3 separate regions of the Homo sapiens genome follow, and all the other regions are linked to region 1. The links come from fine-mapping of genetic effects on gene expression. A gene starts in region 1. Each other region holds a variant in brackets. All regions are shown on one strand. Distances are between the middles of the regions. Region 1 holds the start of CASC15 (cancer susceptibility 15). Region 2 overlaps CASC15 (cancer susceptibility 15). Region 3 has its middle 20 kb from the start of SOX4.

Region 1 (8,181 bases):
CTGAGTGGCCATTATAACAAATTCAAACATATTGACTTCAGATATTTGTAGGTAAAACGTTTGTCGAGAAATAATACTGTACTTTCCACCTCCAAAAAAAAAATTCCAGCAGACAAACTTTTATTGAGAACATTTAAGGAAATCTGAAATTTCCATACAGAACACTTAGTTGAGAGTATACTTTACAGAAAATTTAAAGCATATTTCCTGAACTAATGCTACCTGAGCTAAGCATTCAAACAAAATAATTGTAATTAAATCACATTAAGTTTATCATGCCAAGGCGGGGCACGGTGGCTCACACCTGTAATCCTAGCACTTTGGGAGGACGAGGCAGGCAGATCACCTGAGGTCAGGAGTTGAGACCAGCCTGGCCAACATGGGGAAACCCGGTCTCTACTAAAAGTACAAAAATTAGCCAGGCATGGTGGCAGGCACCTATAATCCCAGCTACTCAGGAGGCTGAGGTGGGAGAATTGCTTGAATCTGGGAGGCAGAGGTTGCAGTGAGCCAAGATCGCGCCACAGCACTCCAGCCTGGGCAACAAGGGCAAGACTCCGTCACACAAAAAAAAAAAAAAAAAAAAAAAACTTGATGATGCTGTTAACTCTATTGTTCAATGATGTAAAAACAAACTTTACAAGAGAGGATGTATCTTATTTATAGAAGCAAGTAACAAATCATAGAATCTTAATGTTAAAAGATTTCAAAAATGTTTTAAGTTATTTAACTTAACCTTCATTTTATTGGTAACAAACAGAAGCCCAGGAAGGTTAAGTAGCTTGTTTATGTTTATACAGCTAGAAAGAAGCAAGTTGTAATGTTCCTTTTTTCCTCATAACAAGATAAAAATGTTTCCAATTCCCAGTTAATTTATTTGACCAGACCACAGAAAGAAAGTTCTTACTTTCCATGGCAAACAATCACTTAAACAAGGATTGTAAATATATCAAAATTAACTTTTTATATTACCAACAGTAGTTATGTGAATTTTTAACTACTTTCTCACAGAGGTGAACAAAAACTAATTGTAAGACTTAAAAGAAGGAATAGAAGACTCTTATGACCACTATAAAAACTTGATGTATGCCATAAAGGTTAAACAAATGTACGGGCTCTGTTATTACAAACTCAAGGTTTTCACTCTGAGAGAACTTACTGTATTTTATATAGACTCCCAGTCATTAGACATTTATTTTGGGCCATTTTTGGATTTTGTTTACCAAAATGAAGTGTCAAAATGAAGAAAAATAATAGTAATGCAAACAACATAAGTTCTGCTAACACAGAACTTAGAAATATCTACTGCAATATTTAAGAAGCAAATCAATCACAAATAAAGTAGGATATTTCCCTGCTGGATGCATCATCATTACAAAATTTCCTTAGTGACCATATAATCTGCATTCATTATGTGTGCTAATGTTGAAGAACAGATGGTAAAATTAATAAAATTCCATCACAAATACCCAAATCATCATCCTAAATAAGAAAGGATCTACAGAAAACAGTTTAAAACAAGGAAGTCCAAAGTCATAAATCACTCTGATAACACAGCCGCTCAAAATAACTAGTCAAATCTCTGGGTATAAGCCCCAGACCAAAAATGAAGTCCTCGTAGAGTATCTAAAAAGCAACATACCTTCTTTAAGGTGGAGAATTCCCAGCGATCAAATTGTAATCCATATAGAAAAGGTATCATCAAAAATTCCAATGATTTAACTTTTAAGCAACTCCAGATGAATCCAGGAATGATTTGACCTTGTATTGGTACTTCCATATTGTTGGCTGATGGAAAGATCCAGTAAGAACAACGCAGAATGAAGGAGGTCAGTGCTAGGAAGTACTCCAGCAAATTCATGATGCTTTCTAGATGCTGATAATAGTAATTACACCTATACAATTGAAATTAATTAAAGTTAGCTTCCAGGTCATTCTGCCTCCTCACTTTGTAAAAGAAAGTAATTGTTGCAATAATATATTTCAGTCTTTGATATGAAAACTCAAAACTACATAGTTCTAGCAGTTGAATCATTTCTAGGTACAATAGTAACTACTTCAATAGTAACTACTACTATACAGAATCAAAAGTTGAAGAAGTTAAAAGACAATGTTTGGGCGTTTCCTCAAGTTATTGACAGTGCATGCGCTTTGATGTTTCATTTGTCTTGTCAAAAGTAAGTCCAAGGAAGTGAGGAAAGCCTCTAGCACTTGGGAATATATGAGAGAAGAAAGTGGAGAAGGTAATAAACTATCCTGGCATCAGAAATGATCTCACAAAACATACCTGAAGATAATAACCTTTAGGTTATTCTGCATGTAGAATTCAAAAAGCCTATTCTGCATATTCCTAATATTTAGATATCACCTCAGATAAGGCATACATTTGCCCACTTTCAATAAACCCCCAACTTCAGTCTCCAAAATGCTTTTCCTTTTTTTTTTTTTTTTTTTGAGACAAAGTCTGGCTCTGTCACCCAGGCTGTAGTGTAATGGCACGATCTCAGCTCACTGCAACCTCAGCCTCCTGTGTTCAAGCGATTCTCCTGCCTCAGCCTCCCAAGTAGCTGGGACTACAGGCACGCACCGCTACGCCCAGCTAATTTTTGTATTGTTAGTAGAGACGGGGTTTCGCCATGTTGGCCAGGCTGGTCTCGAACTCCTGACCTCAAGCGATCCACATGTCTCGGCCTCCCAAAGTGCTGGGATTACAGTGAGCCACCGCGCCCGGCCCCCAAAATGCTTTTTCTACAAACCAAATGACAGTATGGGATAAACAACTCCTGTATAAAGTGGAAAAGCGCTGGGAGAAATTGTACCTAAAGTGGCAACGTTTACTGGGTGTTGAGTGTTCCCCTCATTCGCGCATGACCCAACCTAGAAACATTCCTAAGTTAAGCTACTTAGGAAACAAAGTTAGGGCGTCTTCCTTAGCCTATAAAAACGGAGTGGACTGCGCTGCCTCTTCACCCCGCAGCAGCAGAAACAGCCATCCCTCTTTTGGACGGGCGTGGCAGATAGAAACAAAAGGTTAAAACACAAAAGGCGGGGCGGAAGGCTGGGTCAGAGGAGCTTCTGGGGCTCACGTTCTGCTTTCTATTCAAACACACTGAAGTGGGGTTGGGGGCGGGGGGTGATGGAAAGTGAGAGAGGTGAGGACGGATACCAAGGATTGCCTGGGTTATTCCGGGTGGATCGTGAAACTGAAAGGGGCGGACGGGATGGCTCTAACTAGTGGTCCAGGCCCCATCCCCTCCATCCCTGCATCTCTGACAGTCTGTAACCTGTGGCTTCCTCCACCCCATCTCAGCCCCGAAGAAAACTTTCTGAACTCTTAGCTGTTTGTTGTAAACCTCTCCTTGACCGCTAACACAAGGGACCAATCCCCTCCAACCCAAACCTTTCTTCCTTCCATTGTTGCAGCGTTTTTATATTGTGCGTGGTATCTACAGAGCGCTCTGCAGACAGCTAAGTTATACAAACGACCCCCATATCCATATCGCTTTCTTTTGCATGACCAGGGTCAGGGCTAGGGTGGGGGCGAGGCTGGACTTGACCCTCTCAATTTCTGCATATTCATCCCTACATGAGTGCAGCTGGAAGAACGCGAAGCAATACCCCCTCACCCCACCCTTTTGAAACCCTCCTCCCCATCCCCCCAGCCCCTCATATAAAGAAGCACATAAGATAAATGCCTACTTGGCTTTTGCCTATTAAAAATAAACAAATGAAACAATTGCGCGAGTTCTTTAAAGAACAAAAGAGAAGGGAACGGGGAAAGGAGGTACAATTTACCAGCCAAACTTTGCCACTGGGCTACTCCTCTGCCCTCCGAAGGGCGGGGAGCGGGGCGAGTTGAGGGGAGAGAGGTAAACAAGACAACAGTCCCCACTCACCTTCTTCCCCACTTCGTCGCACTTTTAAGGGACATTTCCCCCGCTGCAGTCCACGAGGCGTTCGGACACTTTTTCCCGGCCTGACAGCAGAGAAAGTCGGGGCGGCAAAGTTGCGAGAGGGAGATACCCCGGCGTCCGGGGGAGAGGGGAGGAAAGAGAGTTCATCAGAGTTCCCCCTTTTGTTCCAAGTCCCGGAGCAGACAAAGAGGCGGCGAGCGGCGGCAGGTTTCTCCCTCTCACCCCTTCTTCCTCTCTCCCTCCCCTCCCTCCCCGCCCCCTCCCTCTCCCCGCATCTCCCGCCCGGCTCGGGAACCTCCGAGGCGAGCTGGGGCTGCTCGGTCCCCAGTTCATCACAACTCTGCCCAGACGGTCTCCTCCCACTGCCAGGCTCGAAACTTTCCCCGGGAGATGCCAGCCCTGGCCCCCTCCGCACCGCGCACAAGTCTGGGGTGGTGGGCAGGGGATCTCCAAAATCATTGTTTCCCGGAGATGCACCTCTTTGTTTGCACTTTCCCTGCCAATCAATGTGAAACATTCACTTGGGCGTCGAGTTTCTGTCCATTTTTCGTCATCCCAAGAGACAAAATGCAAAGGGTAGGGGGTCAACCCTAGATAAAGGCGCTTACACAATCAGAGGTGGGGCGCAGGCTAGGCTCTTCATCCTCCTTCCTCCTCTCGGATTCACCCTCCTCCCTCCTCTCGGATTCACCCTCCTCCACCCAATACACAGAACAACTCAAAGGGGCTCCAAGTGTTAGGAAACTCCTCTCCCGCCCTTCCCCACCTACCCCCACCCACGCTGTCCCTCTGGAGAGCCCTCTAATTGGCAGGACAAAGGCCAGCTCCGGGTTCGGCCGGGGCCTCCGCCCATCCCTCGGGGCTACCTGTTGCTGCAGGCGCAGCGCAACTCGGTCCAGGGGCTCCGAGGAAGAATTCCCAGCTCCAGCATCGCGCCCACCTTCTCAGGCCCCGAACTTCCCCTAATCTCAAACTGCGAAGGCAAGGCTCTCAGGATGACCAGGCGCCCTCTGACCCTACAGCCAGGCGCTGCTCACTCGTCCTCTTCCCTACACCACGTCCTCGTGCTCACCCCAAAGATCTGACTCGGGGTCCCAGGCCGCCTCCTCATCCTCCACCCCCTGCCGCGACACGTCCCAGCCGAGCATCCCCTCTTTCCTTCCCCTCCCCCACTGCCTTGTCCGGGACAAATCAGGTGTCTCGGACCAGGAACAGCTCCCGACCCTTCCCCAGGTCCCTTCCAGTCATTCTCAACCTCCAGAATTGGGACCCCATCCACATGGTCCCCCACCCCTCGACCCTGATCCCAACTTCGGGCCATAGCATTAGCTCGCTGAGTGACTCAGAGCAGCACTCGTTTTCCTTCTAGATCCACTAGAATTGAAGAAAAAGAAAGCAGGGAGGTGGGGGAAATGGGAGAGAGTAGGGGCCCGCATGGGGAAGCAATTTCTAGGGCAAAAGAAAAAAACATTTCAATGCGAACACCCACCCTCCAGTTGGTATCCAGCCCGTCGCGCACCTTTGCCTCCACCCTCTTTCCTTTCTCCCCATCCCAGACTTGGAATCCTTTCGGGTTGGTGAAGTTTGGGGGTAGAAGGATGAGGTAGACGGAACCTTGGGGACCTGGGGGCTATGTCCTGGGTTGGCTTGCGGGGGGAGGGGCATTAAGAGGAGGGCTCCCGCTGGGTCCGGAATGTGGTGGCGGTAGGTCCCTGCACCCGCCCGGCGACTCCTTGCCAAGGTCTCTCCTCCAGAGCAGAACAAAGACGCCGCGAGGAGAGCTTCTGTCCTCGCCTCCCCCGCCCCGCGCTTCACTCGCACCAGCCCACGCCGCTCTCGGAAACTTTACAACCAACTTCCCCTAGAGTTCGTGCGCGCGGCGAGTGGGCCAGAAGGAGAAACCGGGACAATCGCATCCCGGGACCAGAGATGCCCTCTTCCGCGTCCCCTCCTGGACAGGGAGCACCACCTCTTGCACCGCCCGTCCCAGTCTGCGAGCTGGGCGACCCGCGGTGCCAGGGCGAGCGGAGCACGCGCTTTTCCCAGCCCCTTAAGCGAATGATGTTTCTTTAGTCTGGACGCGTACAGTACTGGGCAGTGGGGTCGGAGATAAAGAAGCGGCCGCCGGCCACGCGCAGGGCCGCGGCTCTGGCCGCAAAGTGAGGCCGAGAGCGCAGGAAGAGCACGGGTGTGAGCCGCGCCCGTCGGGCCGGGTTCCTGCGCGTCCCGTTCCGCCCTCGGATCCCAGCGAGCAGCCGCGAGGCAGGACTCAGGGACCGCCCGGGCGGACCTCCTGGAACGTCGGCCTCCTCACCTGCGGGGAGCCCCGACACCTGCGCCGTCTCCTTGCGGAGCCCTGGGTCTCTTGGGCAGTCAGTCGCCTACTGGAAGCTCAGGAACCTCATCTTAGGCGAGGAATCTTGAACGCACCACAACCAACCACAAAGAGAAAACAGCCCCCACCCACTCCTGTCTGGCACATTTTCCTCTTTGTTTAATTATGTTGACTTCCAGAATTCTCTTTTTGGGAGAAGCCTACCCTCCCCCAGACAAAACCTTTCCTTCTGTTATCCTCAGGGATCTGCGTGGAAAATAATGAAAAGTCAGTACTTTGAGACAATTCCATTCTGTTGCCTCTCGAAAATGCTCCAGGTTATAGGGTAAATCAACCAAGATAGAATTTTTGACTTCGAAATAACACCCAATACTCCGCTTACTAATCAGAGCTATTAAAACATTACCGATCCTTTGAAAATGTTTACTGTTTGTTTCTCTCTTTTTTATGGGAATGAAGAGTAAGGGTCATTTGCTAGGTGCAAAAGTCAATATGGCCTTAAGAAGGCTTTCTTCCTGCTGCCTGTCTTTATGAAATATTGCTCTCAGAGCTGTTTGAAGTATCTCCCTTTCCCAACCTGCTTGTGAACAAACATTTCTTCCTGGAATCTTGGTCTTCAACAGGTCAGAGCTCCCCCATCTCTGTAATAAAGCCCACTCCTGGGACAATGTATGAGCTGTTCACTCCTACCTTTTAAAAGCATACCATCTTTTCTCAGATGCCACCACAGCTTTAATATATTTTTAAAGAGTTAATTAACATCATCTAGGCTCAAAGATGGATATAGCAGAGCATATCAGCCAGGTATCTTTTCTGTACTAACAGGGCTGGGGCTCCACCAGTATGTCATGGGCTTCCTACTGGCAGGCCAATGGCATCTTACTCTTCCCTCTCTGCTTCCCCATTCAAGGGCTTCCTGTGGCTGCCAGACCCCACTTTGCCAGTGCAGAGGGGCAGGGCAGAGGAGCCAGGCAGTTAATTCCTCTCAGAGCAGCCCTCAACCAATCAAAGATAGGTGTTGAGGCCAGGCATGGTGGCTCACACCTGTAATCCCAACACTTTGGGAGGCTGAGGTGGGTGGATCATTTGAGGGCAGGAGTTCGAGACCAGCCTGGCCAACATGGTGAAACCTTGTCTCTACTAGAAAATACAAAAATTAGTGGGGCGTGGTAGTATGTGCCTGTAAACCCAGCTACTCGAGAGGCTGAGACAGGAGAATTGCTTGAACCCATGAGGCGGAGGTTGCAGTGAGCCTAAATAGTGCCAGTGCACTCCAGACTGGGCAACGGAGTGACACTCCATCTCAAAAAAAAAAAAAAAAAGGTGTTGATATAAAAATACTCCAGCTTCCCCACTGAGCTTAGGACTACGGTAAATTGTACTCTAGTCTCCCAAAGGTGCCCAACTTTGAGTTTCAGATACACACAGCAGTAACCTCCCCTTTAGGGAACAGTGTTACCTGCCTGCCATCCTTCCTTCCTTTCTTCCTTCCCTCCTGGTTTCTCTACTTATTTCCTTCACTCTCTTCCCTGCCAATGCTTTCTAGGATCTCATCCCAAATAGATTACAATACTTGCCCTCAAATCCTACCCTTTGGGTCAGTTTCTGGGGAAACACAACTAAGAAACCTCTTATATATGTTCTTTCTAAAGGGAGGACTCTGTTCTATTTGGAGAATGAAGTTACAAGATCCGATTTTCTCTAAAAAAGAAGTTATTTAATTAATGAGAAATGTCTTGAGTTATCTAGTTCATTTTCTATGTAATAGTTTAAAATTAGATAGCTTACTGAAGGAAACGTTAAGTAGCAATAAGTAGGATCATATGTCATACGTGAAAGTTTTGCACAGAGAGTCATTAAACAGAAAGAAGCTCCGTAAGTCTAATGCTAGCAATCAGCAATGCAACAGGAAATACTGTTAGAATCACACTT
Region 2 (8,181 bases), 380 kb before region 1:
ATTTACTCAGTTGCAAAGCCAAAAAGAGATCTCCAATCTTGACTCCTGATGAAATTTTTCATTATGTCACTGGAATGAATTTTTAAACTATGCCTACAATTTTTACCCTGACCACTAATTCACTTCTTTCTCACGGCTGGAAGTTAATAAATTGCTTTCAGAATTGATCAAGGGTTCGAATATTGCAGAGTATGTGCTCAGGGCTGGGCCAGGAGCAAGGCCTAGGAGAGATGAGGACACTGGTTGTTGTGATAGAGTGGGGCCCCTACAGGGAGAAGTGCCATGTGTAATGCACCATGGGCGCACACACTAAGGAAAGGAATAGTCATTCCATACTAGTTTCAACAAAAAACAGCTGAGAGAGCAATGAGAAAAAATGTAAAAGAAAACTCTCATTCTTTAATAAAGTGAAGGCAAAAAAAAAAAAAAAAAAAGAGCGGCCGGGTGCAGTGGCTTACGCCTGTAATCCCAGCACTTTGGGAGGCCAAGGGGGGTGGATCACGAGGTCAGGAATTACTGGTGATCAGCCATGGTTTGCCAACATGGTGAAACCCCATATCTACTAAAAATACAAAAATTAGCTGGGTGTGGTGGCATGTACCTGTAATCCCAGCTATTCAGGAGGCTGAGGCAGAAGACATGCTTGAACGTGGGAGGTGGAGGTTGCAGTGAGCCGAGATCGCGCCACTGCATTCCAGCCTGGGCAACAGAGCAACACTCCATCTCAAAAAAAAAAAAAAAAAGAAGCAACACTATTAGGAAAGACTTACTCCTGCTACATTAGAACAAGGCAAGGATGATGGAAGATACAGAAAGCTTTCCTTTATCTAAGTTCCAGGCAGAACTAGATAGAACAGAAACCTGGAGCAGAGCTATTGCCAAAGCCCTGAGCTCAGGTTAAAGGAAACTGTCACCGTTCCATTTCTCCTTTGAGTTTCAAATTTGGTTTCCCAGTGTGCCACTGTAAAAGAGTCCAGTACTGGGGAGAAAACAAATTCCCAGCTCCCACAACTTACAACAATTGAAACTAGTTATTTAGGATTCCCAGAAAGGATTAAAAAAAAAAACTCATTTGTTTATCCTTGCAGGTCAGTTAGGTTAATAACCTCAATTGACCACCATGAATGAAAAAAGTTAAGGAAGAAGAAAACAAATATGGATTTTGCATTTATTGTTTTTGTCTTACCAATTGCAATTTGGGGGCCTTGAGGCAATTGTAGCTGATGGAGGTTAAACAAGGCAGATTGTTGGTTTACGGCCCATTCTTGGCAATTTGGAAGTAAACGATAACCAATATTTACTCAGGCTGCTAGTTATATATGCTTCCTCCTCCTCTCTATCAGATGACACAAAGTAGTGAGCACCACATGGAGAGTGCCCCAAAATTTACAAATCGTCACATATATCGTATCTCATCTAATACAACAACCAACAAGACTAAAGTGTTCTTTCATCATGTGACAAATGATAAAGGGAGAACTCAGGGAGTTACAAAAATTTCCCAGTGCTCACCAGGTAACTGGAAGAGGCTGGATTGTAACGCAGAGTTTCTGACACCAAGTGCCCTGAGCCACGTGTACTCATTTAATATCTTATCTCTCATTCTCCTTTCCTTTGCTCACATGTAAAGAGCTGAGCAGAAGAGGTTTTTGAATGTTGGGTTTTAGGAGGATTTGTGGATTTCAACTCTCCGTGTTCTTCCTATGCCCAGATTATTATCAATAACATAGAGTTGGCATTATATGATCTTTTGGGTCTCTGGAGAGAAAAACCAATAAGGAAATAAATAACCAATTTATTTCCAACAAATTGGTTGGAAATAAAACAAATATAGGCTTAGCATACATTTGGCAGGGTTGGGGAGGGGGTGGTGGGCAAGGAAAGTCTAATAGTCTTCTCTTTCTTGGTTCTGGAGCTAAGAGTATCAAATCTCCAGTGGGAAAGTCAAACCTACTTTCCAGTCAAATAATGAAGCCTTCCATGTTAACCCCTACACAAGAGGTGCAAAGAGAATGTATACAGGGATCCTTTTATGGATGTTCTGGAAAGACAACACCTGTTCTTTGGGCCCTAGTGCCTTTGGTTACACCCAGGTTTTAAGGGGATGAATATAAATCATTTTGGAAGATTAAAAGAAACCCAAAAATTATAATATTCTTTTGCCTCCCAAGAGAAACAATCTTCAGATAATTGGGATTTGATGAGAGTGGTGGAGCTATGCAAATCTTATGCCATTATGAGCATGCAATAATTCAGACTGTTAAAATTACGAAGCAATCCCTTTGCTGTGTGATTCAGAAGGCTCGGCTCCCTACCTTCAGATTAAAATGAAGACTGAAAGACTAAACTTCAACTATGTCTGAATGTCTGTGGGCTGTTTTCCCCACAACTAACAACATTATTTAAACTCCCAACTTTTAAACTGCTAAAACCATGGAAACATTAATAATGGCCCTCCTTCATTAAACCTCAACTTCCCCTCCCACTTGTACTTTTGACCAATTTATTCACTTCAAAGCAAGCAACAGCATCCTGTTCAGTTACTCAGTAGGACCTCTGTACCTTCACCCAACACCTTACACCAAAAGAACACCAAAACCCACAAAAAAAGTCATGATCTCTACACTCCTCCTAGTCTATTGAAGGCAATTATGTAACCTCAAAGTTTTTGCTTTTATTTTTTATTTTTTCAGTTGCCATGGGAAAGACTGTTTGGGCAGCTCCATCTGCACAGGGTAATTACTGGCCTCCCAAAACGCACTCACTCTCACACACACACACACACACATACACACACACACACACACACACACAAAACCTGCAATGATATAAAGAAAAGGTAAACATAATTTTAAACATTTTCAAAGAGGCCAAGAAGGCATTAAACAATCAATATATTACTTTGCTACTGGCAGAAATAAACAAAACAGCCATTTACTGTCAAGAAAACAGCATTTTCAGAGCTGAAGTAGTAATAATAGCAATTAATATTTCCTCAGAATTTAATATTTGTCAGGTACTGTGGACTAAGTATTTTACACAGATTATCTTAATAATCTCCATAAATATAAATCTACAATTCCCATTTTTACAGAAAATAAATGAGGTTAAGAGAGGCTGAGTCACTTGCACAGGGCTGATTAGTAGTGGAGCCAGGATTCAAACCCAAAGCCCACAGTCTTGGTGCTCTCACTGTGCCTCATGGTGCCTGCCTGCCCACAGCCTGTGTTATCATCACAGCTCGCTTCTGGTCTGGTCTAATGACCTGTTGAAGGAACTCAAATGATCACTCATCTCATCTACTGAAACTAAGAATAATTCAAAATATTTTGGGGTGTCAAAATGCATATGGCCAGCCTGAGCTGAGAACCTGTCTCTACAAAAAAAATAGATTTAAAAAATTAGCCAGGCACAGTATTGCATGCCTGTAGTCCCAGCTACTCAAGAAACTGAAGTGGGAGGATCACTTGAGCAGCTGGGAGATCAAGGCTGCAGTGAGCCATGATTGCACTGCTGTACTTCAGCATTCCAACGTGGGCGACAGAAAGAGACCCTGTCTTAAAAAAAAAAAAAAAGAAAAAAAATGCATTTGACCACAGGCTGCACCAGTAACAATGATCTTATTTCAGTATCTACGGTACAATATAAGTATGCATATGTGACATTCAAATACTGTGGCCTTTTCCATTTTCTTAATCAGTTTCAATTTCTCAGTGTTAACTCCTTAATTTAACACTTATCGATAAAAATGCTATCTGCTAATGTGTATTGTAACATTAATTTTGAGTTTTAGGAGATTTGTGAGTGTGGGGTAAGGAGAAGAGCTATTCAGCTCTCATCTATTTTATTTTATTTTATTTTATTTTATTTTATTTTATTATTCCCAAGAGAAGAAATATTTTTACTTTGGCTTCTTCATGAATTTAGGTAATTACTGAGATTCTTGCCATCTTTATATGCTGGATTTGATTCCCTGTGGTGGAAAATGCATACAGTTCCCAAAGAAATCTATGTTAATAGTATAGAGTTCAAATATTAAAAGAGATTAAGTGGTATCAGAAGCAAAGCCTTGGACCAGGCCACCAATCTCAATGGGTAGATCATTTAACAAGCCAACACATGCTAATAGAATCTTCTAAAGGGCTGGACACCTCTCACAAGGTCCCCCTACCCACCTTGACTCTGTTTATCAAGGGAGGAATCCCGACAGCATGGAGCCCCCAGGCCTCCCCTCCTCCATCAGCACAGCATGCCCGCAGTCACAAGCTGCCTGCGAGTTTGGTAAGACTCTGGCTCCAATCCCTTGGCCTCATCTGACCCGTCTTTCTGCCGTATCACTTATCTCCTGGAAAGGAACATGTTTCCAAGCTTCTTCCACATCAGCAGTAGGAAAGGAATTTGCAGTCTTTGAGTATTAAGTGACCTGGGTAGAAAAAAGTCTTAGAAGGGAGGTGAGACGGAGGGGTGGGGAAGTACAATGAGATACTTT[T/C]ACTTTGCCAAATTCCCATCCCTTTTTGGCCGTAGGCAATGCCAGAAGAGAAAGCCAAAAGGAGGTAGGAGGGTAAGTGGAAACAGCTCCTCCTCTTCCCTTGCACTTCCTGGCTGGATATCTGTAAACATCTCTCTACCACCCTTCCCCAAGCAGGGAGCCTGGATATACACACACTTGCCTAACTGCTGGAGCCACACCATCCACATTAGCTACCTCTCTAAATCCCTGAGAAGCAGGTCAGGCACAGTGGCCAGGGTGGGGACAAGGTGGATCCACAGAAGGCCACCTGATGACCTTTCCATTAACAACCAGAGCTCTTGGTGCTGCCTCCCAGAGATGAGTAGGGGAGGTGTCTAGACAAAGAAGAAAATAAAAATGTTTTCTTCCTTCCCTTCCCTCAGTCATACTTTACATCTTCCTCTGGGCACTGCAGTAAAAAGAAGCAAGGAGGTGCACCTGGCCGGAGAGCAATCTCCAGGAAGCTAGATGAGCCATCCTGTGTGTGGGAATGAAAGGCAGACCAGAACAGAAAGCAGTGAGGTTGTGATTCCAAAATCCCAGCTCCCAAACCTGTGGCCAGAGCAGAGCCTGTAATTAAATGTGAACTTGCCAGTGGCTCTCTTAATACATGAGGCAAAAAGTTAATGTCTGATGGACTGGGGCCCATGCCAAACTCCAGCTCAGTTGCCTCCCCACAGGGGACTAGTTCAAAGAAATGAGATCTAGTGGTAGTGAACAAGCCAAGTAAGTTGCAGGGAGGCCCCAGCTCACAGGTCTGCCTTTGGACCCCCTCCTCTGGGCTTCCCTAATACTCTATGCACAGCTCCTCCCCAGGTACTCACAGCCATCATTCATCCTTTATTGATCTGTCCTGTCCATGAAGCAAAGTGGAGGGCTGCCCTTTTCTGGACTTTACGTGCTTGGTACCAAATACACTAGGTCTGCACTGTCTAATACAGTGGTCACTAGACACATGTGGCTCTTGAGTCCTTGAAATGTGATCAGTCCAAACTGAGATGTATCTCAAGTTTAAAACAGTGGATTTCACAGACTTACTATGAAAAATACAGTTAAATAGCTCATTAATTTTTATATTAATTAAATATTGAAATAATATTTTGGATATATTAGGTTAAATAAAGTGTGTTATTAAAATCAATTTCACCTAATTCTCTTCATTTTTTTTTTTTTAGCATGGCTACACATGTGGCTTATATTATATGTCTATTAGACAGTATTGTTCTGGGTATTCCATGAGGGAGGGAGGGAGGAAGGAAGGAAGCAAGGAAGGAAGAAGGAGGGGGAAGGAGAGGGAGGGAGGAAGGGAGGGGGGCGGGCAGGTGGGCAGGCAAGAGAGAGAAAGAGAGTGGGGAGAGGGATGAAGAAGGAACACCAAGAGAAAGAGAAAGTTGACTGGAGATCAGTATAAATGCTTTTAAATCAACATATAACAGAAATGGTTTTAAAGAAGTGAGGTTATTTTCAGAAATAATTTTTGTATCTGGAACTACATTTCATTCTGAATCATTTGCTGTGAGAAAATGCTTACTAATCATCCAGGACTCCTAAAGGATGAGAGAGCAACAGACTGTCGGCCAGGCCACATCACAGAGGCCAAACTGAATCTTCAGTCCTGTGGTAAAGACTCGGGAGAGCAGAAGGGAATTGTCACTTGGAGATAAAACAATGAATCTGGAAACCCCACAGTTTTCCAAACTTCTCTTTATCCTAAATGTAACAATTCCCTCAGTTCAGCTGATTAAATATATTCTTTAAAACTGTTTTTAAAAATGCACAACCTTCCACCAAACATTTAAAGAAGTAAGCCAGGCGCAGTGGCTCACACCTATAATCCCAGCACTTTGGGAAACTGAGGCAGGTGGATCACCTGAGGTCAGGTGTTTAAGACCAGCCTGGCCAACATGATGAAACCCTGTCTCTACTAAAAAAAATACAAAAAATAGCTGGGCATGGTGGCACATGCCTGTAATCCCAGCTACTTGGGAGGCTGAGGCAGGAGAATCACTTGAACCTGAGAGGCAGAGGTTGCAATGAGCTGAGATTGCACCATTGCACTCCAGCCTGGACAACAAGAGTGAAACTCCGTCTCAAAAAATAAAAATAAAAATAAAGAATTAACACCAATCTTTCTCAAACTCTTTCAAAATACTGAAGAAGATAAAACACGTTTTGTTTGTTTGTTTGTTTTTTGAGACTGAGTCTTACTCTGTTGCCCAGGCTGGAGTACAGTGGCGCAATCTTGGCTCACTGCAGCTTCTGCCTCCTGGGTTCGAGTGATTCTCCTGCCTCAGTAGCTGGGACTACCAATACACACCACCATGCCCAGCTGATTTTTGTATTTTTAGTAGAGATGGGGTTTCACCATGTTGGCCAGGCTGGTCTTGAACTCCTGACCTCAGGTGATCCATCCACCTCAGCCTTCCAAAGTCCTGGGATTACAGGCATGAGCCACTGCACCCGGCTGATAAAACACTTTTTAATTCATTCTATGAGGCCAGTATTACCGTGATAGCAAAGCCAGAAAAAGAAAGAAAACTATAGACCAATATCCCTTATAAACACTGATGTAAAAACTGTCAACAAAATACTAGCCATCTGAGTTCAGCAGAATATTAAAAGAATTATACACCACAACCAAATGAGATTTAGTCCCGAAATGCAAGGATGGTTTAACATAGAAAAATTGATATAATATATAATGTTAACAGAATGAAAGACTAAAACCACATGATCATCTCAATGTGGTTGATTCAGAAAAAGGACTTGACAAAATTCAATACCCTTTCATGTTGAAAATACTCAACATACTAGAAAGAAATCTACCTCAATATAATAAAATCCATATATGAAAAAACCCATAGCCAACATCATAATGGTGAAAGACTAAAAGCATTTACTCTAAGATCAGAAATAAGGCAAGGATGCCTGCTTTCACCACTTCTATTCAACATGGTACAAGAAGCTCTAGCCAGAGCAATTAGGCAAGAAAACGAAATAAAGGCCATCCAAATTGGAAAGGAAAAATAAAACTATTTCTGTTTGCAAATGATCTGATCTTATCTCCGAAAGATCCCCCGATCCCGCACTCAAAAAATTGTTAGAGATAATAAATTCAATAAAGTAGCAGGATACAAAGCCAACATATAAAAGTAAGTTGCATTTATATATACTAACAATGAACAATCTGAAAAGGAAATTACAAAAATGGTTCCATTTATAATAGCATCAAAAACAATGAAATACTTAGGAATTAATCAAGGAGTTAAGAGACTTGTACAATAAAAACTTTCTGAAAGAAATTTAAAAAGACATAAATACATAAAAACACATACCATGTTCATGAATTAGAAAACTTCATACCGTTAAGATATAAATACCACCCAAAGCAATCTGTAGATTCAATGCAATCTCTATCAAAATCCCAATGACAATTTTTGCAGAAATAGAAAAATCCATTCGAAAATCCATAGGGACTCTCAAAGGACCCTGAATAGCCAAAAACAATCTTGAAAAAGAACAAAGCTGAAGGATTCACACTTCCTGACTTCAAAACTTACTACAAAGCTACAGTGATCAAAACATGGTGATACTAGCATAAAGACAGAGAGATGCACCAGCAGAACAGAAAACCCAGAAATAAAACCTCACATATATGGTCAAATGATTTT
Region 3 (8,181 bases), 53 kb after region 1:
ATAACTAACTGCTTTCTAAAATTAACTTTAAAACATATGCTGTACTTTAAATTTTTGTCTAATGCCTATGGAAAAGATGGTAAACTGTGGAACTACGTTCACTTTTTTTTTTTTTTTTTTTTTTTTTTTTTTAACACAGGGTCCTGCTCTGTTGCCCTGGCCGGAGTTCAGTGGTGTGATTTCAGCTCACTGCAACCTCCACCTCCTGGGCTTAAGTGATCCTCCTGCCTTAGCTGAGACCACAGGCATCAGCCACCAAGCCCAGCTAATTTTTTTTTTTTTTTTTGTAGAGATGGGGTTTCACCATGTTGCCCAGGATGGTTTCAAATTCCTGGGCTCAAGCGATCCACCTGCTTTGGCCTCCCAAAGCAAGCGTGGCGTGAGCCACAGCACCTGGCCTCACTTCTATTTCTTATCAGCTATTACTTTGGCCAAATTACTTAACAAACTCTCTGTTATTTATTTTCTTACCTATAAAATGGGGATAAATAATAACTATCTCATAGGGTTGAAATTAAATGAAATAATATACATATATATATATATATATAAAGGACAAGTATATAATAAATGCTTAATAAATGTTGCTATTGATGCCATTAGTGGTGGTAAATGGTGGTGATAAAGTTTAGTAGTAATTTCACTGGGCTCAGAGTAAGCCACTCAATAAAATCCTGCATGAAAATTGTTTTCTCTGTCTCTACCAGGTAACAAATTACTTTCAAGAAACAGACCAGGCTGGTCATGGTGGCTCATGTCTGTAATCCCAGCACTTTGGGAGGCCAAGGTGGGCAGATCACTTGAGGTCAGGAGTTTGGGACCAGCCTTGCCAACATGGTGAAACCCCGTCTCTACTAAAAGTACAAAAATTAGCTGGGCGTGGTGGCAGGCGCCTGTAATCCCAGCTACCAGGGAGGCTAAGAAAGAAGAATTGCTTGAACCCAGGAGGCAGAGGTTGCAGTGAGCCATGATCTCCAGCCTGCACTCCAGCCTGGGCAACAGGGCAAGACTCCATCTCAAAAAAAAACAAAACAACAAAACAAAACACAAACAAACAAACAAAAAACCAGACCACTGGACTAAAAATGACTTCGTCAACATGAATTTGTTTTCCCCACATAAGAAGTTTGGTGGTGCTGTTCTTGAATTGGTTCCATAGTTCATCATGTCAGGGCCCTGGGTCAGCCTTCCCAGGGTTCTCTGGGCATTTGCTCCTGGCCACAGGACAGCCACGTAGCTGCTCCAAACATCACACCCTGTGCACGCTAAGCAGGAAGGAAACAGGAATAGGCACTCATCAGTGGCCTCTCACCCATTATCAGGCAGGAAAATCGCTCTGAGACATCTCCCTCCCCTCCCCGGCAGACTTGCCCTTAGGTCAACTTCTCGGACACAGGGTGCTCCTGGCAGAAAAGGAGTCTGGGAATTGAGCATCTGCAATTTTCAGCCACAACAGAGGGGAGGCAGATCTGCCAGCCAGGAAAAAAGGTGAACCAAGGCTTGCCACCTTATTTTAACTTTATTTTTCCTTTTCATTACGAACCAGATATATTGTTTTCAAAGGTTCATTTCAGAGACCTAGCCCAAAATATAATGTGCCACCTCAATCTCTATACAAATGTTCATTGTCAGAGGTAAATAAGTAAATAACCCTTCCTCCCTCCTGAATGCAGCAGAGCAGGTAATTGTCAAGCCATTTAGACATTTTTAAAAACCCTAAAAACAAAATTGGGAAGCCGTGAGCCAGATGGTCTCCCATGATTGTTGCTGACTCGATGACTCACTCTTTTGTCCCTTGTGTTTCAGAATTTCTTTTTCAGAAATTCCCCTGATCTCATCTCTCTGTTTTCTTCCTCTTCCATTAGATGGATCAAATGTCTTCCAAAATATCACCTTCCTCTTCTAGCAATACAACAGCAGGGAAACGGTGGCAGAAACAGTACAACATGAGGGCTTGAGTGTGCTCTGTGTGTGTGTGTGTGTGTGTGTGTGTGTGTGTGTGTAGGGAATGTGGACAGAGAAAAACTAGATTTACCTTTTAACCTCACCCTGTTACCTTCCAAACATACAAAATACTTCAATACCTTCCTGGTAATCACGAGGCTCAGCTCACTCTCCACTCTTCCCCACACCTCCCATCCCTGGCCCAGTGAATTCCCTGCTCCCCACCTGCCAAAAAAGAAAAGGGTAGGGGGCTAAGAAGATCTCCAGCCTCTGAAAAAGGAAAGCAGAAATCGCCAGGGCTGGAAGCTCCCTCTCTACGGCACAGCAGACAGCGGAGTGACAGCAAAACCCTCTTCTGCTTCCTGCCTTTCAAAGGAAGCACACTGAGGCACTCACCTAACCAGCTGTCCTGCATCTTGTTCCAGGAAGATAATAAGGATTCCCAAACACAGCACATGCCTCACCCAAAGCCAGTGTGGGCCAGCAAAATGGAGATGCGTTGGAGAGACTCAGTGTGGATGCCCCGTTGGAGAAACAGGATCAAAATCATTGTATACCAACTAAAACCACTATCAAATACAATTCAGATGGGATCAATGATGGGTCCCATGAGCATCAGATAGGGATGCTGAAGCTTAGCAGCCACATAAGAGAAAAAGTCCACTTTGTGGAGGGCGAAGCTCTGAGACAGCAGCAGTGTGACCACCTCTGGGAAGACAGGGTGACTTTAGGAAGGTTTGGGGCTGATGGGACACATGTAAGCTTTATGCTGAGGGATGCGGTCTTCAGTCTTCAAAGACCCTTCAAAAATGTGAAATGTCCACAGCAGAGAACTAAGACGGGGGTCATCTGGAATAATGTCTTGTAAAGAAGCAGTGATAAAACTGGTTGAGAATGTTACCCTGGTGAGGGGGAGGCTTAGGGTCACAGGAGCACACCCTCTGTCACTGCTAGGAGCAGTGTAGTAGTTAAGCGCTCCGTTCTTGGTTCCTACTTACAGAGTTTGAATTTTGCCTGTTGACTAAGAACTAAGATTCTTGTCCACTCTGAGAGAAATACATGTGGTAGAGAATCCATGCAAATGCATGGGACCTGCCCATAGGAACTGTTGAGTGTTAGCTTCTGTTATTAAATTCCTCTCATCTTGATTTAAATAATTTGGCGAGTTTCCACAAGTGCCTGAGGCTGCAAAGAAGTGTTTTAGGGAGCTCCAGATAACATTTTCAGAAAAAGTCACCTATCGTTTGTGGATTACATACTAAATAGGTGGTTCTCAAACCTCAATTTGAGAAATATTGTTAAAGCCTTCCATTAGGGGATAATCCTATTAAATTTAGAAAATTTGGCAGAATGAGGATTTGTAAAGGAATGCAATGTTCTGTGGAACATTAAGTGTCTCTAAAAACACTGAATAAATATATAACGATATCTCCTTGCATTTGTGAGCTGCCTATAGACACCAAGTGCTTACACATGTGCTGGTTTATTTACTGTCTGCTGAATTATCAGGAAATTCTACCTGCCAGAGATTGCTACCAGCCTACTGGAGCTGGTTTCTGGCCCTTGCTTTCTGTTCCTTATAGGGTTGGCTTGGAGAGTAACTTTCTTATTGTCCATTTTTGGTAGCTACTCCATAGTCAGTTG[C/T]CATTTCCTAGTAACCCTTTTTGCCTCTGATGAGACAGGGCATAACTCACCAAACGTAACTATTCCTGAAATAGACACTTTTAAACATACTTGTCATGAATTTCTCAAGTGCGGTTTGCAAACCACCTGCATCAGAACCATTTTTGTTTGTTTGCTTAAAAATGTAGACATACAGAGGTTCAGACATCCTGATTCCACCTCAGGGTAGTTAATCCAAATTGCAGGGCAGGAGGACTGGAAATCTACATTTTTAACAAGCACCCCAGATGATCCTTATGCATGCTAACAATTAAGGACAATTGTTCTCATGTTTCAGGAGCACAATTAAAAATAGTTAAATCCTGCGAAGCCGGCTGCTGGACAAAGGCAAATACAAAAATAGAGAAATACAAAAAGGACTCAGAGGTATAGACCATCCCGGAGCTAGCAAATCACACACCAAACCCACCACCAGAGACTCTGAGTTGGGGCAGGTACAAAATTTAAATGGGGCTAAAAAACTCATTAATAGGGACAAATAATGCTTAGTGACATAAATATATATATAATATTAAATTATATTATATATTATATTATAATTATAGTATATATAATATATTTTATATATATATATACATTTTTGAGACAGAGTCTCTATCACCTAGGCTGGCGTGCAGTGGCGCAATCTCGGCTCACTGCAACCTCTGCCTCCTGGTTCAAGCAATTGTCCTGCCTCAGCCTCCCGAGTAGCTGAGATTACAGGCATGCCACCATGCCTGGCTAATTTTTGTATTTTTAGTAGAGAGGGGGTTTCACCATGTTGGCCAGGCTGGTCTTGAACTCCTGACCTCAGGTGATCCACCCACCTCAGCTTCCCAAAGTGCTGGGATTACAGGCATGAGCCACTGCACCTAGCCAGTGCAATATTTTTAAAAGTCAAAATCAATGCAAAAATATTCATAATGAACAAAGGCATGAAAACTTTAAATGAAGACTAGATCAGTACTACCCATGTTTTCCTTTTGCTTCGGGCTCCACTATGGCACTCTCCGGCACTGCCAGGACGGCTCTTCGCTGTCCAGTCTGTGTGCTAACGGGACAGTACTTGTCCTATCTCACTGTATCTAAAGGAGGAGGCTGGAACAGGGGAATGTCAACCATCTTATCCTCGTGTTGCAGTTCAGAGAGTTTAAAGTCAAATGCCTAATTTTACTAACTTCGACACATCATTCTTTCCTTTGAAAATAAAAGTTAGATTGAGTTCTGTAGTTCTTAACCAAACAGAATTGTACTCCAGTGACAGGATTAACTTGCCAAAGACATATAGGCTCATAAGAAGCTGCCTACCCTGCTGATGGCTCAGTTTAAGGGACTCTCAGAAGCGATTGTGAAGGCCAAATAGGCCCCTCTGTAGGGTGTCACTCTGCCTCAGATGCTGCTTTCTGATAGACATTTCTGGGTGTGTAAAATTTTAAATCCTTTATAAACATCAATGATTCGCATAATTGGTGTAATTATAGGTATCTAAAAAGCAGAAAATGCCTGTGTAACAGCTGCCAATAGTTGGTTTCAGGAAACATGCAGTCACTTGTGGAGAGCCAGGCTTGGGGTATAATGCTCAGATAATATTACTTCCAGATGGACCAACTTGAATGAGAGATGGCAAGGAGATAGAGGAAAAGTGCTCCCTCCCCAGGAACCAAGCCACGCAGGAGTCCAGGGGTGGAAAATGCTCTCTGAGGGTCTCCCCTGACTGCACAGTGCGTGTGCACAGGTCCCACATCTACAATGGGCTCCAGCTACTTATGTGAGGAAGGACTAGAAAGGAATAGTTTCAACCATCCTTTGTCAGCGCTATTTTTAAACGCTCCACAGTTGTTAAGGCCTCTATTAAAGGTAAGAGAAACTGGCATACAATTGGCAGTCCCTAGTTTACATATGTCTGTCTTCTTCCAAATGGGCATGGAGGAAATGAAAATATTTTTAATTTCTCTACTCCTTAAATATGTGGGGCTGTTTTGTTCATAAAATGCTTGTGGTTTATTGAGAAGTTCTTAAAGCCAATTCTGTTAGTGGTAGGTACTTGAACCTGCAAACATTGCCCTGAGTACTCTCCTACTCTTTCAAAGAACAGGTGGGTTTGGGTGGAGAAGGATAATTAATTGGGAGAAATGGAAACAATTTAGAGGAATTGACCCTCGGGCAGATTCCCAAGGCCTGCTACCACTTAGCCTGCCAAAATGGCCGCCAATTACCAACCTACAGCTAAAGAGATCTCCGCCCACACTTTCTGAATGAATGTTCTCACTTCATTTTGTCAAACTACCCATCCTTCTACAAATGAACAATCTGAACTTAACTACAATCTTCTTTTTTTTAAATGTGCATTTATGTAGTAGTAAATCTCCCAATGTATTTAGCACTGCCTCTTTCAAAGACAGGCTTCTGGACCTACTTCTGCCTGGGGGTGGGGGAACAAACTGCAGTGTGTTTTGAGACTACAGATAGCCCCACAACTACCCAGGAACTTCAAATAAATTATTAAATGGTCCTCACCTGAGAACCATTTAATCAAAAAGTTTCAGTCAGGACGGGCGCAATGGCTCACGCCTGTAATCCCAGCACTTTGGGAGGACGAGGTGGGCGGATCACCTGAGGTCGGGAGTTTGAGACCAGCCTGACCAACATGGAGAAACCTCGCCTCTACTAAAAAACACAAAATAAGCCAGGTGTGGTGGCACATGCCTGTAATCCCAGCTACTTGGGGGGCTGAGGGAGAAGAATTGCTTGAACCTGGGAGGTGGAAGTTGTGGTGAGCCGAGATTGCGCCATTGCACTCCAGCCTGGGCAACAAGAGCAAAACTCTGTCTCAAAAAAAAAAAAAGTTTCAGTCATATTGATGTTAAAACACCTACCTAACAGCAGTCTTAAAGGAAAACACAGTGGGTTTTATTGTGTTTTATTATGATTATTATTATTTATTATTGAGGGGACAGGGATTTTTATAACGATTTTGATAATAGTTAATTTTGGAGCATGAACCAGCATCCAAGACAGAACAGGCCTGAACATTATGTTATGATGTTTGGTATGTTGTTATGTTATGTTATGTTATGTTATGTTATGTTATGTTATGTTATGTTAATATGTTTGGGGAATTTGGTAGGATCAAGCCAGGGAGCTAGGTCAAATGGCCCCTAAATATTCTTTGTCATCTAAAAAGTTCAAAATTCTGTGATCAGTGACTCTATGATCACATCCCAAAATAGTAGGTTTTTTTTCTCCATTTTTAAAGCAGAATCATTTATGTAAAACAGATGAAAGAGGAACTGCTCTGGGTGGTTATGTGTGGATTTTCTCTGAGTATATCTGTGTAAAGGAGAAAGAAAGGGGGTAGTGTATCTTGGTCTCTATGATGACTAGATAAGATTGAACTCCCACAAAGCAGACCCAAACCTAGCCCAAAATATCTTTTGCCAGTTTGTCACATGGATGTTCTGTTGTAGTGAGAGGTGACAGCATGCTGGCAGCCCTCACAGCCCTTGCTTGCTCTCGGGGCCTCCTCGGCCTTGTCGCCCACTCTGGCCGCGCTTGAGGAGCCCTTCAGCCCGCCACTGCACTGTGGGAGCCCCTTTCTGGGCTGGCCAAGGCCGGAGCCCACTCCCTCAGCTTGTGGGGAGGTGTGGAGGGAGAGGCCCCGGCGGGAACCTGGGCTGCACGCGATGCTTGCTGGAGAGCGCGAGTTCCGGGTGGGCGTGGGCTTGGCCGGTGCCGCACTCAGAGTGGCCGGGAGGCCGCGCCAGCCCCAGGCAGTGAGGGGCTTAGCACCTGGGCCAGCAGCTGCTGTGCTCAATTTCTCAGAGGGCCTTAGCTGCCTTCCCGCGGGGCAGGGCTGGGGACCTGCAGCTCGCCATGCCTGAGCCTCCCTACCCCCCTCCCCTTGGGCTCTGGTGCTGCCCGAGCCTCTCTGACGAGCACCGCCCCCTGCTCCACGGCGCCCAGTCCCATCAACCGCCCAAGGACTGAGGGGTGCGGGCGCACGGCACGGGACTGGCAGGCAGCTCCACCTGCAGCCCTGGTGTGGGATCCTCTGGGTGAAGCCAGCTGGGCTTCTGAGTCTGGTGGGGACTTGGAGAACCTTTTTGTCTAGCTAAGGGATTGTAAATACACCAGTCGGCACTCTGTATCCAGCTCAAGGTTTGTAAACACCAATCAGCACCCTGTGTCTAGCTCAGGGTTTGTGAATGCACCAATCGACACTCTGTATCTAGCTTCTCTGGTGGGGACTTGGAGAACTTTTGTGTGGACATTCTGTATCTAGCTAATCTAGTGGGGAAGTGGAGAACCTTTGTGTCTAGCTCGGGGATTGTAAACGCACCAATCAGCGCCCTGTCAAAACAGACCACCGGGCTCTCTGTAAAATGGACCAATCAGCAGGATGTGGGTGGGGCCAGATAAGAGAAAAAAAGCAGGCTGCCCCAACGAGCAGTGGCAACCCACTCGAGTCCCCTTTTGCAGTGCGGAAGCTTTGTTCTTTTGCTCTTTGCAATAAATCTTGCTGCTGTTTACTCTTTGGGTCCACACTGCCTTTATGAGCTATAACACACTCACTGC

What was found. PIP is the estimated chance that this variant, and not a neighbour inherited with it, causes the effect. A credible set is the group of variants that fine-mapping cannot tell apart.
Region 2: its variant is the best candidate, but not a certain one, in a credible set for the expression of CASC15 in lung (TOPMed, PIP 0.61).
Region 3: its variant is the best candidate, but not a certain one, in a credible set for the expression of CASC15 in sigmoid colon (GTEx, PIP 0.70).

The regions. Positions count from the first base shown.
Region 1 is chr6:21,662,361-21,670,541 of GRCh38, reverse strand. CASC15 (cancer susceptibility 15) reads right to left here and starts at 4,129. Exons shown (of 12, transcript NR_015410.2): 1 at 3,897-4,129; 2 at 1,643-1,895. It overlaps LOC124901483, which reads left to right and starts at 4,482. Exons shown (of 3, transcript XM_047419653.1): 1 at 4,482-4,490; 2 at 4,727-4,895; 3 at 5,584-6,001. The coding sequence starts at 4,482. The coding sequence ends at 5,987. RefSeq lists a silencer at 4,570-4,864.
Region 2 is chr6:22,039,889-22,048,069 of GRCh38, reverse strand. All of the region lies in intron 7 of CASC15 (cancer susceptibility 15), which reads right to left. Among named protein-coding and RNA genes, the nearest start is that of NBAT1, 100 kb to the left of the region's middle. The variant T/C (reference allele first, on the strand shown) is at 4,490.
Region 3 is chr6:21,609,317-21,617,497 of GRCh38, reverse strand. No RefSeq gene overlaps it. Among named protein-coding and RNA genes, the nearest start is that of SOX4, 20 kb to the right of the region's middle. The variant C/T (reference allele first, on the strand shown) is at 3,589.